2 separate regions of the Homo sapiens genome follow, and region 2 is linked to region 1. The links come from fine-mapping of genetic effects on gene expression. Tissue or cell type: whole blood. Region 1 holds a variant in brackets; the other region holds the start of a gene. All regions are shown on one strand. Distances are from middle to middle.

The links. PIP is the estimated chance that this variant, and not a neighbour inherited with it, causes the effect.
Region 2: PANX2 starts here. The variant in region 1 is fine-mapped to the expression of PANX2 in whole blood (INTERVAL, PIP above 0.99).

Annotation. Positions count from the first base shown.
Region 1 is chr22:49,994,661-50,001,961 of GRCh38, reverse strand. It overlaps IL17REL (interleukin 17 receptor E like), which reads left to right. Exons shown (of 15, transcript NM_001371417.1): 3 at 731-880; 4 at 1,099-1,208; 5 at 1,370-1,484; 6 at 1,722-1,766; 7 at 1,995-2,134; 8 at 2,460-2,531; 9 at 2,617-2,671; 10 at 3,653-3,825; 11 at 3,893-3,937; 12 at 4,220-4,277; 13 at 4,479-4,642; 14 at 4,888-4,968; 15 at 5,102-7,301. The coding sequence ends at 5,287. Among named protein-coding and RNA genes, the nearest start is that of IL17REL, 14 kb to the left of the region's middle. RefSeq lists enhancers at 1-642, 643-1,602, 1,603-2,561. The variant C/G (reference allele first, on the strand shown) is at 4,391.
Region 2 is chr22:50,166,547-50,173,847 of GRCh38, reverse strand. It overlaps PANX2 (pannexin 2), which reads right to left and starts at 3,117. Exons shown (of 3, transcript NM_052839.4): 1 at 2,892-3,117. The coding sequence starts at 3,117. RefSeq lists an enhancer at 1,592-2,284 and a silencer at 3,884-3,943.

The DNA of each region.
Region 1 (7,301 bases):
GAGCAGCAGCCGCACTGTCTCACCAACAGCATGTGGGTCCCACGCCTCGGTGGCCATGCCTTCTATAAAGAGGGTGGCAGTCCTCCTGTGGAACAGCTGGGTTGCCAGGCTCTGTGGCTCACGTGAAGTTCTGCTCTGAGTCCCACCTGCAAACCTGGCTGAGCAAAGCCCCCAGTGCCCAAAATGATACCCAGCTCCACACTGCCCACGTCTGGTGAGGCTGCTCAGAATGGCGTTTGGTCTCAGAGCAGAAGGCCCTGGGGGCAAGTCCTCCCTGTGAGGATGCGGCCGCTTCCCTGTGGACAGAGGCCTGGGCTGCAGCAACCTTGGGGTCGCCTCCCAGGTGTCCCAGCAAGCCCGTGTTGGCCTTTTCTGCTGTTCGTCTTTGAGCAGAGTCGACAGAGCTTGCCAGCAAGTCGTGGTGGGCTTCCTGCCCCCTTGCTGGCCAGGTGGGGCAGCAGCTTCCACTGCTCTGATGCAGACTGGTGTGCAGCCTGCCCCCCTGACCCAGGCCCACTCCTGGGGTCCCACAGACATTTTGGAGTGTGTCTCGGGGTGGGGGCTCACCACATGCCAGGGGACTTGCTCTCCAGTTGGCCTGGGGCAAGATAGTAAAGACCCCCTGGCAAAGACTGCAGCCCCAGGGCTCTCTCCCCCTTCCCAGAACCACCCACAAAGCCTTTCCGAGCACCAGGGAACTCGAGGCCTCACGCTCCTTCTCCCTCCCCAGGGAACATTTTTAACAGCTTCTGCCGGCCACGCCCCGTGTCCATGTCCAGGTCAGTCCTGGAGGCCCTGACGTCCTCCACTGCCATGCAGTGTGTCCCCTCTGACGGCTGCGCGATGCTCCTGCGTGTACGCGCCTCCATCACCCTGCATGGTGAGAGGTGGCCTCGAGGGTGGGAGTTAACACCCGCAGGTCCAGCAGTGGGCCCAGGTGCCTTTTATTCCCATCAAACCTTGGGCGGCCTGGTGAGGGAGGGGGGCTGCTAACCGCACTTCACAGAGAGAAGGCAGAGGAACAGGGTCCCACGGCCCCGTCCGGAGCCAGGGGCGGCCCTGCTCTGATGCACCCTGCCGGGTCCTTCCTCCACCCAGAGCGCCTGCGGGGCCTGGAGGCCTGTGCCATGAGCCTGGACACCCAGGAGACGCAGTGTCAGAGCGTGTGGGTGGCCAGGGCCTCCCACCGGCAGCAGGGGGGGCAGCAGGTGAGGCCAAGGCAGGGCTCTGCCACCCAAGTCCCGAAGACTGGGCGCCACTCCTCCTGGGCGCCATCCCTGGCTCTAAGCTCCAGCCATGCAAGTGGAGCTGGCCGGGTGGGGTGGGCAGTGCCTCTGAGTCCACGCAGCTCACACCTGCACCTGCTCAGCTCCAAGTGCACTTTGGCTGCTTTGCGGTGAGCGTGGCCCAGCACCTCTATGTCACCCTGAGGACCATCCCTCATTTCTGCGGGGTCCAGCTGGACCAGAGGCACCTCGTGGAAGGTAGGGTCCCCAGGGCCCCCTGAGCACAGCTACCGTTCAGCCTCCAGGGCCTGGCTTGGGGTGGGACTTGCCCAGGGCAGGGGCCTGGCCCTCACACTGGACAGATCCCCGCAAGACCTCTGGCTTAATTCGAGGTCGCATGACAGAGGCACAGCGCGTGGATGGGGGGCGGGTGGAGGAGGATGGCCCCTGAGGGCAGGGCAGCCCGCACCCCGCCATTGCCTCTGCGGTTTGCAGACTGCGGAGAGGAGGACGTGGGGAGGAGCGTGCCCGACTGCCTCGGTGAGTTCCCTCCTTCGACGCCCCTGCGAAGACCCTCAGACGCTGCGACAGGCTTCCTCTCCCCGGGGTCTTCTGCCCCATTTGGGAAATCCTGAGGGGCCCTCGGGCGGGCGACTCCCAAACGTCTGAACCCAGCAGGAGCCACCACGTCGGGGCTCTCGGGACAGACAGAGCCCCGCGTCGGTGACCGCTGGTCCCAGCGCGGCCCCGACTTGCCGCCTCCTGCAGCGGGGAAGCTCAGCTACTGGGTGGACCGGAGGCGCAAGGCGATTCTGGTGCAAGTGCCCAGGGCCTCCGGGAGCCCCGACTACTACCTGCGGCTCTGCCTCAAGCGGTTCACCTGCGAGGACGCCGGCGCCCCTGTGCGAGTGAGCGCCCGCGCCCCGGGCCCCGGTCAGCCTTAGGCCCCGCCCACCTCCGCGCCCCGGGCCCCGGTCAGCCTTAGGCCCCGCCCACCCCGCGCCCCGCCCACCCCCCGCGCCCCGCCCCCGGCCAGGCCTAGGCCCCACCCACCTCCGCGCCCCGCCCCCGGCCAGGCCTGGGCCCCACCCACCTCCGCGCCCCGCCCCCGGCCAGGCCTAGGCCCCACCCACCTCCCGTCCCCGCTCCCGCCCCGTTCGGTGCAGGTCCCGCCCACCCCAGACCACCCCCGCCCTCCCGCGCGGCCCCTCAGCCGCCCTTTCTGGGTTGCAGGTGACCGCCAACAGCGTCTCCCAGGCCGTCTTCCTGCCCTACAGCCAGGAGCTGCCGTGCCTGTGCCTGGAGGTCGGTGGAGGTGTGGCCTGGACTTGGGGCGGGTGAGGGGAGCACAGGGATGGGTGGGCTGCGCTGACCCCAGCCCCTCCCACAGGGCTGGTCTGCGACCCCTGACGCGGTGCGGATCCAGATCTGCCCCTTTGAAAACGGCAAGTGTCCTGCGATGCCAACGGGCGGAAGGGTGGGAATGGCTGCGGCCAGTCTGACTCCACCATGAGGACTGACGTGGGGGGATGAGATAAGGAGCAGGCCCAGCCTAAATCCCTGAGCCTGCTCGGAAGGGCTTGTCACCAAGGGAACCTGCGCACAGATGTGGATGTGCATAAGTGTGTGTGTGTGTGCAATGTACATGTGTGCGCACGTGGACCAGCTCACCTGGGAAAACCAAGCCTGTCAAGAGGGGCTGTCTGAGGGGCACAAGAGAGACGTCCTGCTCTCGGTTCTGCTCAGCGACGCTGCACACACACACATGCACAGACACCCACGAACATACACGCCCATACACATGCACAGACACCCATGAACATACACGCCCATACACATGCACACACACATGCACAGACACCCATGAACATACACGCCCATACACATGCACACACATACACATGCACACGCACACCCACGCGCAGGCAGGCACACCCATGCATACGCACACCCACACCCATGGACACGCACCCATGCACACGCACCCATGCACATACACACCCATACACATGCAAACACGTACACATGCACACACACCCATGCACAGGCAGGCACACTCACGCACACCCATACCCATGACACCCATGCACAGGCAGGCACACTCACGCACACCCATACCCATGACACCCATGCAAACACGTACACATACACACACCCATGCACAGGCAGGCACACTCACGCACACCCATACCCATGACACCCATGCACAGGCACACACATAGGCGCACGCACCCATGCACATGCATATCCACACACATGCACATGCACCCATGCACACACGTGCACAGCCTTGAGCCAGGGCTCAGAGACCCATAGGACTGCGCTGGACCCTGGCCCAGTGGTCACTTGAGTGGGTGCTAGACCCCATGGGCCTGGCAGCCAGGGTAGGGCCCAACTGACCTGTGTTTCGGGGAGGGTTCCTGCAGACACTGAGGCACTGGAGGTGCTGTGGGACACGGTCTACTACCACCCGGAGAGCCAGACACTGAGCTGGGAGCCCGCCTGCCCTGTGAGTGGCCATGTGAGCCTGTGCTGGCGCCCGGGGCCGGGGGCCGGCTGCCGTAAGCTGCAGCAATCCAGCCAGCTGGTGCATCGCAGAGTGAGTGCCTGCTCAGCAGGGATGGGGGTGGGCATGGATGCCACAGCCTGACCCCAGCCCTCCTCAGGTGCAGTACCCGCTGGTGGACACCCAGCCCCAGCTCTGCCTGAAGGTGAGGGGCTGCCACAGCCTGCCAGTGCCCTATTTGGGGAGGGGCCAGGGGGCATCAGGGCGGGGAGTGGGGCAGGGGCCCTTGCCCAGCCCTGGAGCCTAGCCTCCCAGGCGTCCCTCAGAGCCCCCTCCTGGTCTGACAGTGGGTGAGCTAAGGGCCTAAGGAGGAGAACTGGGCCCAGAGCACCCTGAAGCTGACCCAGCCTGTCCCTGTCCCTGCCCCTGTCCCTGCCCCTGCCTCACACACACTCCACCCTCCTGCACCCCTCACCCCACTTTGCAGTTCTCTACCAGTTGGGGGTCCTGGGTGCGGTGCCCTTTCGAACAGCGTCGCTTCCCAAGTAAGTTCTCCATGAGGCCTACGCAATGTGGACGCAGCACAGAACATCCTTTATATCACTCTGTGCTGGTCAGGGAGGTGGAATAACGGTGCCAAGCCAGTGTGGGGGAGGTA[C/G]AGTGGGCAGGCGCCAGGCCCACTGGGGAAGGAAGGGAGGCGGTGGGGTGCTGGGCCGGATGGGGGTCTCACCCTTCACTCCCCACAGCCTGGAAAATGACCATCCAGCCTTCGCCCACAAAGGGCCACCTCCGGGTCACCTTCTTCTCGTCCAGCCCCGCCCACTTCCAGGTGCACCTGTGTCACAGGAGGAAGTCACAGCTCCCTGCCTGCCAACGCACACTCCAGGCCAGCCCGCTCCCTTCAGCCTCAGTGAGCCGAGAGAGTGGGGCTCCATCCTGGGGAGGTGGGGGTGGTGGCGGCAGGACCCCATCACTTCCCTGTGGTGGTCTCTGCCCCACCCGGGCCCTGAGCCCACCCAGGGTCTAGTCTACCTGGCAGGGAGGGATGGGAGGCCAGCCCTGCTTTGTGGGTGCTGAGAGGATGTGGGAGAAGGACAGTGTTTAGCCTGATCCACCCTTCCTCCCATTGCCTGTGACCTGCCCTCCCCCACCCAGGGTGACCTGGCAGCCGCCCCTGCTTTTGCCTTCCTAGACCTTCCCAGGGAGGAGGCCTGTGCCCCAGGCATCTGCATCCAGGTGGGTGTCGCTGCTGTGCCCAGCCCCTAGCCATCTCCTCCACTGCAGGACCTCAGTTCACACCCCCCCTTCCCATCCCCCATCCCCGGGGGAAGCAGGAGGCCATGTTGACGGAGCTGCCTTATGCCTGCAGGGCTGGAGGACCGATGTACACTTCTCCGTCCCCCAGCAGCTCTGCAACCTCCGCTCCAGTGGGTGCCCATCTCTCAGGGGCCGCAGGAGGCCGAGGACTAGACCTAGGCCTCCCACGGCAGGCTGGGCGTGGCGTGCACTGAACAGGAGACTGGGTGGGGGAAACGGGGAGACCATCCGGCCCTGAGTCAGGTCAGGCTTCTGCGCCAAACCCAGGTCTGTGCCCAGCACTGCCCTCCAGCCTTGCATTTCCCTCCACCACACACCGCTGGGCCTCCCGCACGCCCACCCTGGTCTCACTGTCACTGGCCTTGCCTCCTCCTCCCTGGGGGTCCACCTTCCCTGATCAGAGCTCTGGTTCCAACCGCCAGTGACTTGGGATGTCCCTTTGCCCACCAGCCACTGAGGCCCAGGCTCCCAGGACCCAGGGTACATCAGGACAGGACTCTGCCCAGTGGACAGAACTAAGCACATGTGGCCTGGGTGTGGTCAGGAGCGTGGCTCTGCCTTGGAGTCCAGGAAGGGTCAGAGCTGGCACTCCTACCTGCACCCCTCCCTGTGAGCAAAAGAGCTTGCCTAGCTTCGGGTGGGGTGAACCGCAACAGCCACAGAGGTGGGAGGGGTGGGAGGGGGTGGATAGGACAGCCTGGCACCCAGGGCCTCTGGAGACCCTTTCCAGGGAGCACCAGTGGGCCAGGCAGGGGTCTCTGGAATGTCTCCTCAGCTCAGCTGAGCCACAGCCATTTCAGGGCAGCCTGCTGCCCACAGGACATGCCCAGGGCCGTGGCAGTACCCGCAGACCTTCAGCTCCCCCTTCTCCCAGCAAGACTTTTTGGCCAAGCCTAGGTCCCCCTCCCTAGCAAAGGTCACCTCCAGCAGATCACAGACTAAAGGGGCAATGGCCACCTGCTGGTCAGGTGTCCCTGGGGCTGGCACCTGCCACTGTGGAGTGCCCATGCTATGCTGGGCAAGTCCACGGCCCCAGGGACAGGCCTGGAGGCAGCAGGAGGACCGGGCCTGGCTCAGGTGGGGGGATCTGGGGGTCATACACACTCCTCTTGGGGCCAGGGTGGGCTCCTCCTTCACTTGTCTGCTGAGCCTCCCTGCAGATGGAAGGCTGCTGTCCACAGCCACTGGCACCCCAGGACTGGGCAGCCCCCTCCCCTTCCCTCACATGTCTCAGCCTCGCACAGTGGGGGCAGGGCTGGGAGGTGGTGTCCCAGCCAGTACCACCCCTACGTCTCTCTCCAGCTGCACCCACCCACATGGGACGGCAGCCTGAGGCCAGGAATCTCCTCACGAACAAGTAGGTGCCAGGGACACATTGCTGGGGGGCAGGAGGCCAAGGCACAGCCTCGGACAGCTGAGCCAGGCCCCCCTCCGAGAGTGTGGGGTGTTCTCACCTGACTGTGGGGCCTAGGCACCTGCTGGCTGTCCTGGGGCTACAGCTCCATGGGGCCCTCAGGGGCTCTGGGTCACATAAAAGACCTTCAGCCCTGTCCTGAGTCCCCTGGGAACAGCAGGAGCTGGGTGGGCTACCCCTTCCCCGGATGGCCCAGGTGCTGGACCCCAGCCTCCCTCTCAGACAATTCATGGTCATGGCCACTGTCCCTGGCCCTGAAGACAAGGCCCTGGCAGCTGCCTGGAGCTTCCCCAGTGCTCTGGGGTGCAGGGTGCAACCCCACCCTTCCTGTAGCTGATCAGGCCCGAGGTGGTCAAGGATCACCCCAGTTTCTGCCCAGGGCACCCCACACTGGCTGGAGTCCACCTCTCCTGTCTGTGCATCCTTGGGTGCTGAGCTTCACTGGGGCACCCGCCCCACTCGGACCCCTCCAGAGGGTCTCAGCTTCCCCAGATCCCAGCCCCACTCACCCAGCAACGGTCAGTCACTTCCTGTGGTCTCAGAGGCCACCTGCCTGGGGGCCACCTGCTGGGATGTGCGGTTCTCAGACATTCCAAGTGGCACATCCAGGTCCCAGCCAGGGGTGCCCAGCAGTGGCCTGTGCAGTGGGCCATGGGGTCGGCCCTTGAAGACTTCTCGTGTGGGTCACGTAGGCTCTCCGGCTTCCCCGCTGAGCCACCCTCTGGAGCCTGGACATCGTCTCACCTGAGTGCTGTGCAGGACCACATGCCCAGCCTGTCCCAGCGGTGGTCGCACCCCATCTGCAGATGCACTCCCACCGCAGTCTGGGCCCAGGCTG
Region 2 (7,301 bases), 170 kb before region 1:
AGAAGTGGGGCTGGGAGAGAGAACGCCACGCAGCCGGCTCTGAGGACGCAGGAAGGGCTGCAAGGCCAGGAATGTGGAGGCCTCTGGAGGCCGGAGAAGGCAGAAAGTGGGTTCCCCCTTGGAGCCAGCCCTGCTGACACCTTCGTTTTAGCCCCATGAGACTCGCATCTGGCTTCTGACTTGTAGGTTTGTTCCAGCAGCCACAGGAAGCTAATCCTGGCGGTGGCTGCGCACCTGCTACATTCTCCACTCTCTGCAGGCTGAGGGGGGCCGAGACCCTTCCCCAGCCCACCTTGGAGACCCTGGGACTTGGCCCCCAACCTTCGAGGGTACTGCATCCTGAGACAGCAGCTGGCCACACGGGCCCTCAGGCCCAACCCTGCCCTGCGGCATCAGGGGCTGCGCTCGGCCCTCCAAGGATGATGAAGCCAAAAAGAGGAACCAGCCCATAGGCTCCTGGGAGGGTGCTCGGGGGCAGAGCGCTCGCTTCCTTTCCGCTTTAAAGAAGAAAGTTGGGCCGGGTGCGGTGGCTCATGCCTGTAATCCCAGCAATTTGGGAGGCCGAGGCGGGCGGATCACCTGAGATCAGGAGATCGAGACCAGCCTGGCCAACATGGCAAAACCCCGTCTCTACTAAAAATACAAAAAATGGGTCAGGCACGGTGGCTCAACGCCTGTAATCCCAGCACTTTGGGAGGCCAAGGTGGGCGGATCACGAGGTCAGGAGATCGAGACCATCCTGGCCAACATGGCAAAACCCCGTCTCTACTAAAAATACAAAAAATTAGCCGGGCATGGTGGCGGGCGCCTGTAGTCCCAGCTACTTGGGAGGCTGAGGCAGGAGAATGGTGTGAACCCAGGAGGCGAAGCTTGCAGTGAGCAGAGATCGCGCCACTATACTCCAGCCTGGGTGACAGAGCGAGACTCTGTCTCAAAAAAAAAAAAAAAAAAATGAGCCAGGCGTGGTGGCGGGTGCCTGTAGTCCCAGCTACTTGGGAAGCTGAAGCAGGAGAATCGCTTGAACCCGGGAGGCAAAGGTCGCAGTGAGCCGACATCGCACCACTGCACTCCAGCCTGGGTGACAGAGCGAGACTTTGTCTCAAAAAATAAAAATAAAAAAAGCGGGGGGGTGGTGAAGAAGAGAAAAGGGCACAGTGGCTCACGCCTGTAGTCCCAGCACTTTGGGAAGCTGAGATGGGAGGATCACTTGAGCCCAGGAGTTTGAGACCAGCCTGGGGAACATGGCACAAAAATTAGCTGGGTGTGGTGTGGGATGCCTGTGGTCCCTGCTACTGGGGGCTCGGGGCTGAGGCAGGAAGAACACCTGAGCCCGAGAGGTGGAGGTTGCAGATCGCACCACCGCACTCCAGCCTGGGCGACATACCAAGACTCTGTCTCAAAAAAAAAGGAAATTTGGACACAGACAGGGAGGGAAGAAGCCCATGAGAAGACAGAGGCAGAGACTGGTGGCACGGCCACGAGCCAAGGCGCCCAAGGATTGCCGGCAGCACCAGAGGCTGAAGAGGCTGGAATGTCCCTTTCCTAGAGCTGTGGGAGGGAGCAGGGCCCTGCCGACACCTCGATTTTGGACTTTTGGCCTCCGGAACCATGAGAGATAAATGTCTGCTGTTTGAAACTGCCTAGTTTGCGGTACTTGGTTGCTACAAACACAGAGAACACACGTGGTGTCTGGACATGCTGGGCCTGCCCCAAGGCCCCACCGCACGCCTGGGCTCCCTGCTCTGCAGAGTGTGCTGTGTGCCCACCCCAGGGGTCCTCTAATCCCCGGGGTCTGGCCTCCAGTGTCGAAGAGGAGACCAGCAGAGGCCTCCTCCACCCCTGGGTGGGATCAGACAGCCTGGCCAATGTCCACCCTCAGGCCTGGTGTCTCCAGGCCACGGGGACTCCTTAAGGCAAGGCATCTGGGAGATTTGGGAAGCGCCAGTGCTGAGGCAGGGTCTGCTGAGGTTTGGAGGCTGCAGAAGAGAGGGCCCCAGGGTCCCAACACCCCTCCCCGCTGCAGACTAGTACCTCTGGGCCACACAGGCCAGGAGACCCTGATCCCCCTTGCCTTGGCCCAGACCCCAGGGGAGGAAGTTCTCGGCTCCACCTGTCTCGCCCCACTCCTTGGGGAGGGCAGAGGCACCAGGACCCCACCCCGCAGAGGCTCACAGGCAGGCTGGCTGCTCTGTCCATCTTCCTGCCTCGCCTGGGTGGCTTCAAGTGCCCCCACAGGTCCTGATCTAACCAGCGCGGGTCCCTGCCCTGGTCCAGCCCCCATCTCCCTGCAGGAGCTCCAGGCTCCCTGCTCTGACACGTGGCCCTGCCCCATGCTAGCCCCCCTGCTTCAAACCTTCGGAGGCCCCCAGTGCACCCGGAGAGGCCTCGCCCTGCCTGAGGGGTGGAGGGCCTGGGCCTCTCAGAGACTCTCTCTGCCCTCCTTCCACCCAAGTCCAGCCTGGGAACCCTGCCCGGCAGCTCCACCAGCCCCTGTAATCAGCTCTCTGCTGTCAACACCCATCCCGGCCTTTCCTGGTCCCCACCTGGCCACCCTGCATCCCCTCAGGCGCTGCTTGTGACATTCTCCAAACCAGACCCCGTGTCTCATGACATTTGGGACCCCTGGGTCCAGACAGGCCTAGTCCCACCCGCGGCCATGGGCGGACGAATGGAAGGAAGAACAACAATAAAATAGAGACGAGGGGTCTGTGCGACCAGCGACACCTGCTAGGATGGGGGCGGCTGTGGAAGGTGCCTGGGACGCCGCGGACGCAGCCAGGCCACGGTGGGCGCGGCTGGACGGAGCCGCCGGGGACGCGGGAAGCGCCAGCTCCCGGACACCTGCGGACGCCCCCTCTGCCCGCGCCCCGCGCCCCGGCCGCCGGCCTCACCTGCGAAGTTCTTGGTGAAGACCAGGGTGACCAGCAGGATGGGCACCAGCACGGTGCCGATGGTGACCACCCGGTCGAACGGCAGCTCCAGCTTCAGCTGCAGAAGCAGCGCGGCCAGCGCGCCCGCCTTGTCGTCCTGCGCGCCCGGCAGGATCAGCTCCCGCAGCTTCTCTCCCGCCAGCAGCGCGGTCGCCATGTCCGCCGACTGCTCCAGGAGGTGGTGCATGGGGGGCGGGGGGCGCGGCCCGGCGGGGGGCGCGGGCGGGGCGGGGGGCGCGGGGCGGGGCCCGGCGAGGGGGGCGCGGGCGGGAGGGGACGCGCGGCGCGGGGGCGGGGATCGGGGAGCGTGGGGGCGCGGGACGGGGACGGGGCCGCGGGCCGCGGGAGAGGGTGGCAGGGGACGCCGGGACCGAGCGGGGGGCTCCGGGGGATGGGAGTAGCCGGAGGCGCGCGGCGGGTGCGGGGCTGGCCGGGCGCGGAGCCCGCAGCGGGGTTTGGGGGGCGCTCCGCCGCCGCCCCCGGGGTCAGGGGGCGGGCGGGCCGGGCCGGGGCGGCGGCGGGGGGCACCGGAGCCGCCCGCCTCCGCCGCAGCCCGGCCCCCGCCCTGGCGCGTGCCTCCGGCGGGGGCGGCGGCGGGATCCCGGCCCGGAGCGCGGGCGGCGGCTGCTGTCCCTGCCTGGGGCCGGCGGCCCCGCTCCCGCCGCGGGGAGGGGGCTGTTTACCTGCGGCGACTCCGCGGCGTGGCTCCGCCCCACCCCGCCCCCCGCCACGCAGATGCGGCGCGGGCGATGACTTTGCAGAAAATATTGAAATGAAATGAAAGGACATGAATGAGTAATGACCGGTCCCTCTTCCTGGGAACGCGGGGTGGCTGGCGGGGGGCTGCCCCGGCCCGCGGGAGGGTGGGCAGGGGTGGGGGCGGCCCTGCGGGGCTCCGGGCTGGGGCGGGGGCGCCGCTCGGTGGCGACGTGAGGACTGGGCGCGCGCTGGGGCTGCCCCCGTCGCATCGCAGGGCCCTTCGCCCAGCCCAGGGCGCAGAGGGGGCTTCCTCGCCTGGGCCCCCCACCTGCCCCGGCCGCGCCCCGCTGTGGGTCCGGAGGTTCCCGCGCTCCTGGGGTGCTGCGGCCACTGGCGGGGAAGCCGGCGCTCTCTTCTCTGGGCTCGGGCGCCAGTGCGCGGGCAATGAGGGCATCTCCCCGCCCCACACCCTCCACTGCAGCCCCGGCCCCACCCGACCCCCCCACCCAGTACCCCCAGTCCCGCCGCCGTGAGTGACCCCATCACCCCCGCTCCTGCAGCCCGCACCTCCTTCCCCCACGCCCCATCCCGTCCCCTGTTCCACAGACGTTCCCGGGGCCTGTGCCAGCTCAGGGGGTCCCCGCCGCCTCCCTGACCTTCATTCCCTCCGCTCCCCACAGCCCCGCCCTCCGTCCTGTTCTCCCTCGGGGAGCCGGGGGTCTGGCTTCAGACGCGGGCGCATCCCGCGTGGTCCCTGCCTCTTCGAGGCAGCCGTTTTCCCTCGTGCAGGTCCCCTTCCCACTATACCAGGACGAACGTGCACGATCTTTCATATAAAAGATTTAGTGTGATTGGAGTTTTAAGTTCATTCAATAATTCATTCCAAAAATGTATTTTGAGCCCGTGTTCACAGGCCCGGCCACTGCTGTGAGCAAACCAGGAGGTCCCCCTGCCTCCCTGGGCTGCGTAGGGGATGTGTCTGCTTTGAGCTTTCACGCCGTCTGCGTTTTTAAAGATCCTTGCATGTTTTCTGAGGGATGCCAGCCCCTGACTTCCAGCAAACTTCATCCTGAGGCAGGCAGTTCAGCTACATCCAATCCCAGCACCCAACCACCCAGTCACCCCAGATAAACCCAGTCACCCCAAATAACCCAGGCACCTCCAGATAAATCAGCCCTGGCAGATAACCCAGTCACCCTGACAACCCAGGCACCCCAGATAAACCAACTCACCCCCCGATAACAGTCACCCCTACCAGATAACCCAGTCACTGCCAGATAAACCAGTCACCTCCCAAATAACCCAGTCACCTCTCACATAACCTATTCACCCCAGATAACCCAGTCACTGCCAGATAAACCAATCACCCCAAATAACCCAGGCACCCCTCACATAATCTATTCACCCCAGATAACCCAGTCACTGCCAGATAAACCAGTCACCTCCCAAATAACCCGGGCACCCCTCACATAACCTATTCACCCCAGATAACCCAGTCACTGCCAGATAAACCAATCACCCCAAATAACCCGGGCACCCCTCACATAATCTATTCACCCCAGATAACCCAGTCACTGCCAGATAAACCAGTCACCTCCCAAATAACCCGGTCACCTCTCACATAACCTATTCACCCGATAACTCAGTCACTGCCAGATAAACCAGTCACCTCCCAAATAACCCAGTCACCTCTCACATAACCTATTCACCCCAGATAACCCAGTCACTGCCAGATAAACCAGTCACCTCCCAAATAACCCAGTCACCTCTCACATAACCTATTCAACCCAGATAACCCAGTCACTGCCAGATAAACCAGTCACCTCCCAAATAACCCAGTCACCTCTCACATAACCTTTCACCCCAGATAACCCAGTCACTGCCAGATAAACAATCACCCCAAATAACCCGGGCACCCCTCACATAACCTATTCACCCCAGATAACCCAGTCACTGCCAGATAAACCAATCACCCCAAATAACCCGGGCACCCCTCACATAACCTATTCACCCCAGATAACCCAGTCACTGCCAGATAAACCAGTCACCCCAAATAACCCAGTCACCTCTCACATAACCTATTCACCCGATAACTCAGTCACCCCCAGATAACTCAGTCATCCCAGATAAAATCATCATCCCCAAATAACCAAGTCACCCTTCAGGTAACCAGATAAACCAGTCATCTCCTAGATAACCGAGGCACCCCTCAGATAACCCATCCCGTATAACCCAGTCACCCCCAGATAACCATCACCCCAGAGAACCCAGCCACCCCTCACATAACCAAGTCACCCCCCCTCCCCGACAACTCAGTCACTCCCAGATAACCCAGTGCAGTGAGTTCCAGCCCCTCCGAGCGACCCGAGTGTGGCTGCTGGGTGGCTGCCTTTGTTTTCCAGATGCACTTTCTGCTTTCGCATGGGTGCCTCTCCATGCTTTCCAGAAGTGCTCGGCCAGTCCATGCTCTCACCATCCCTGTCTTCTTTCCAGCTCTCAGCCCTATCCACCTTCTAGTATCTGCCATTCTCGGGGGGAAGGGGGGGCGGGTGTAGCTTCCAGGTGCTTTGAGTTTATCTCTAGCGGTTTGTGTGCACGCTCTCTTCAAACCCTGAGCACTGCATCACTGGTCAGAGCTCACTGTAACCCTGAACTCCTGGGCTCAAGCAATCCCCCCACCTTGACCCCCCAAGTAGCTGGCATTATAGATGCACGCCACCATGCCCAGCTTTTTAAAATTGTTACTATTATTATTATTTTTTTGAGACAGAGTCTTGCTCTGTTGCCCAGGCTGGAGTGCAGTGGCGCGATCTCGGCTCACTGCAAGCTCCACCCCCCGGGTTCACACAATTCTCCTGCCTCAGCCTCCCAAGTAGCTGGGACTACAGGCACCTGCCACCACGCCCAGCTAATTTTTTGTATTTTGTTTTTAGTAGAGACGGGGTTTCACCGTGTTAGCCAGGATGGTCTCGATCTCCTGACCTCATGATCTGCCCACCTCAGCCTCCCAAAGTGCTGGGATTACAGGCATGAGCCACCACACCCAGCAATTTTTACTATTATCTTTTGAGACAAGGTCTCACTCTGTTGCCCAACCTGGAGTGCAGCGGTGGGATCTTGGCTTACTGCATCCTCCATCTCCTGGGCTCAAGGGATCCTCCCACCTCAGCCTCCTGAGTAGCTGGGACTGCAGACATGCACCACCACACCTGGCTAATTTTTTTGAGAGATGGGGTTTCGCCATGTTGCCTAGGTTGGTCTCGAATTCCTGGGCTCAAGTGATCCTCCTGCCTCAGCCTCCCAAAGTGTTGGGATTACAGGCATAAGCCACTGCACCTGGCCTTAAAATTTTTTTATCTGTAGAAACGGGGTCTCACTATATTGCCCAGGATGGTCTCAAACTCCTGATCCCCCCACCCCCACCCAACCCAGCCTTGGCCTCCCACAGTGCTGGGATTGCAGGCATGGGATTACAGGTGTGAGCCACGCTGGGACTGCAGGCATGAGCCATGCTGGGATTGCAGGCGTGAGCCACGCTGGGATTGCAGGCGTGAGCCACGCTGGGATTGCAGGCGTGAGCCACGCTGGGATTGCAGGTGTGAGCCACGCTGGGATTGCAGGCTTGAGCCACGCTGGGATTGGAGACGTGGGCCACGCTGGGATTGGAGACGT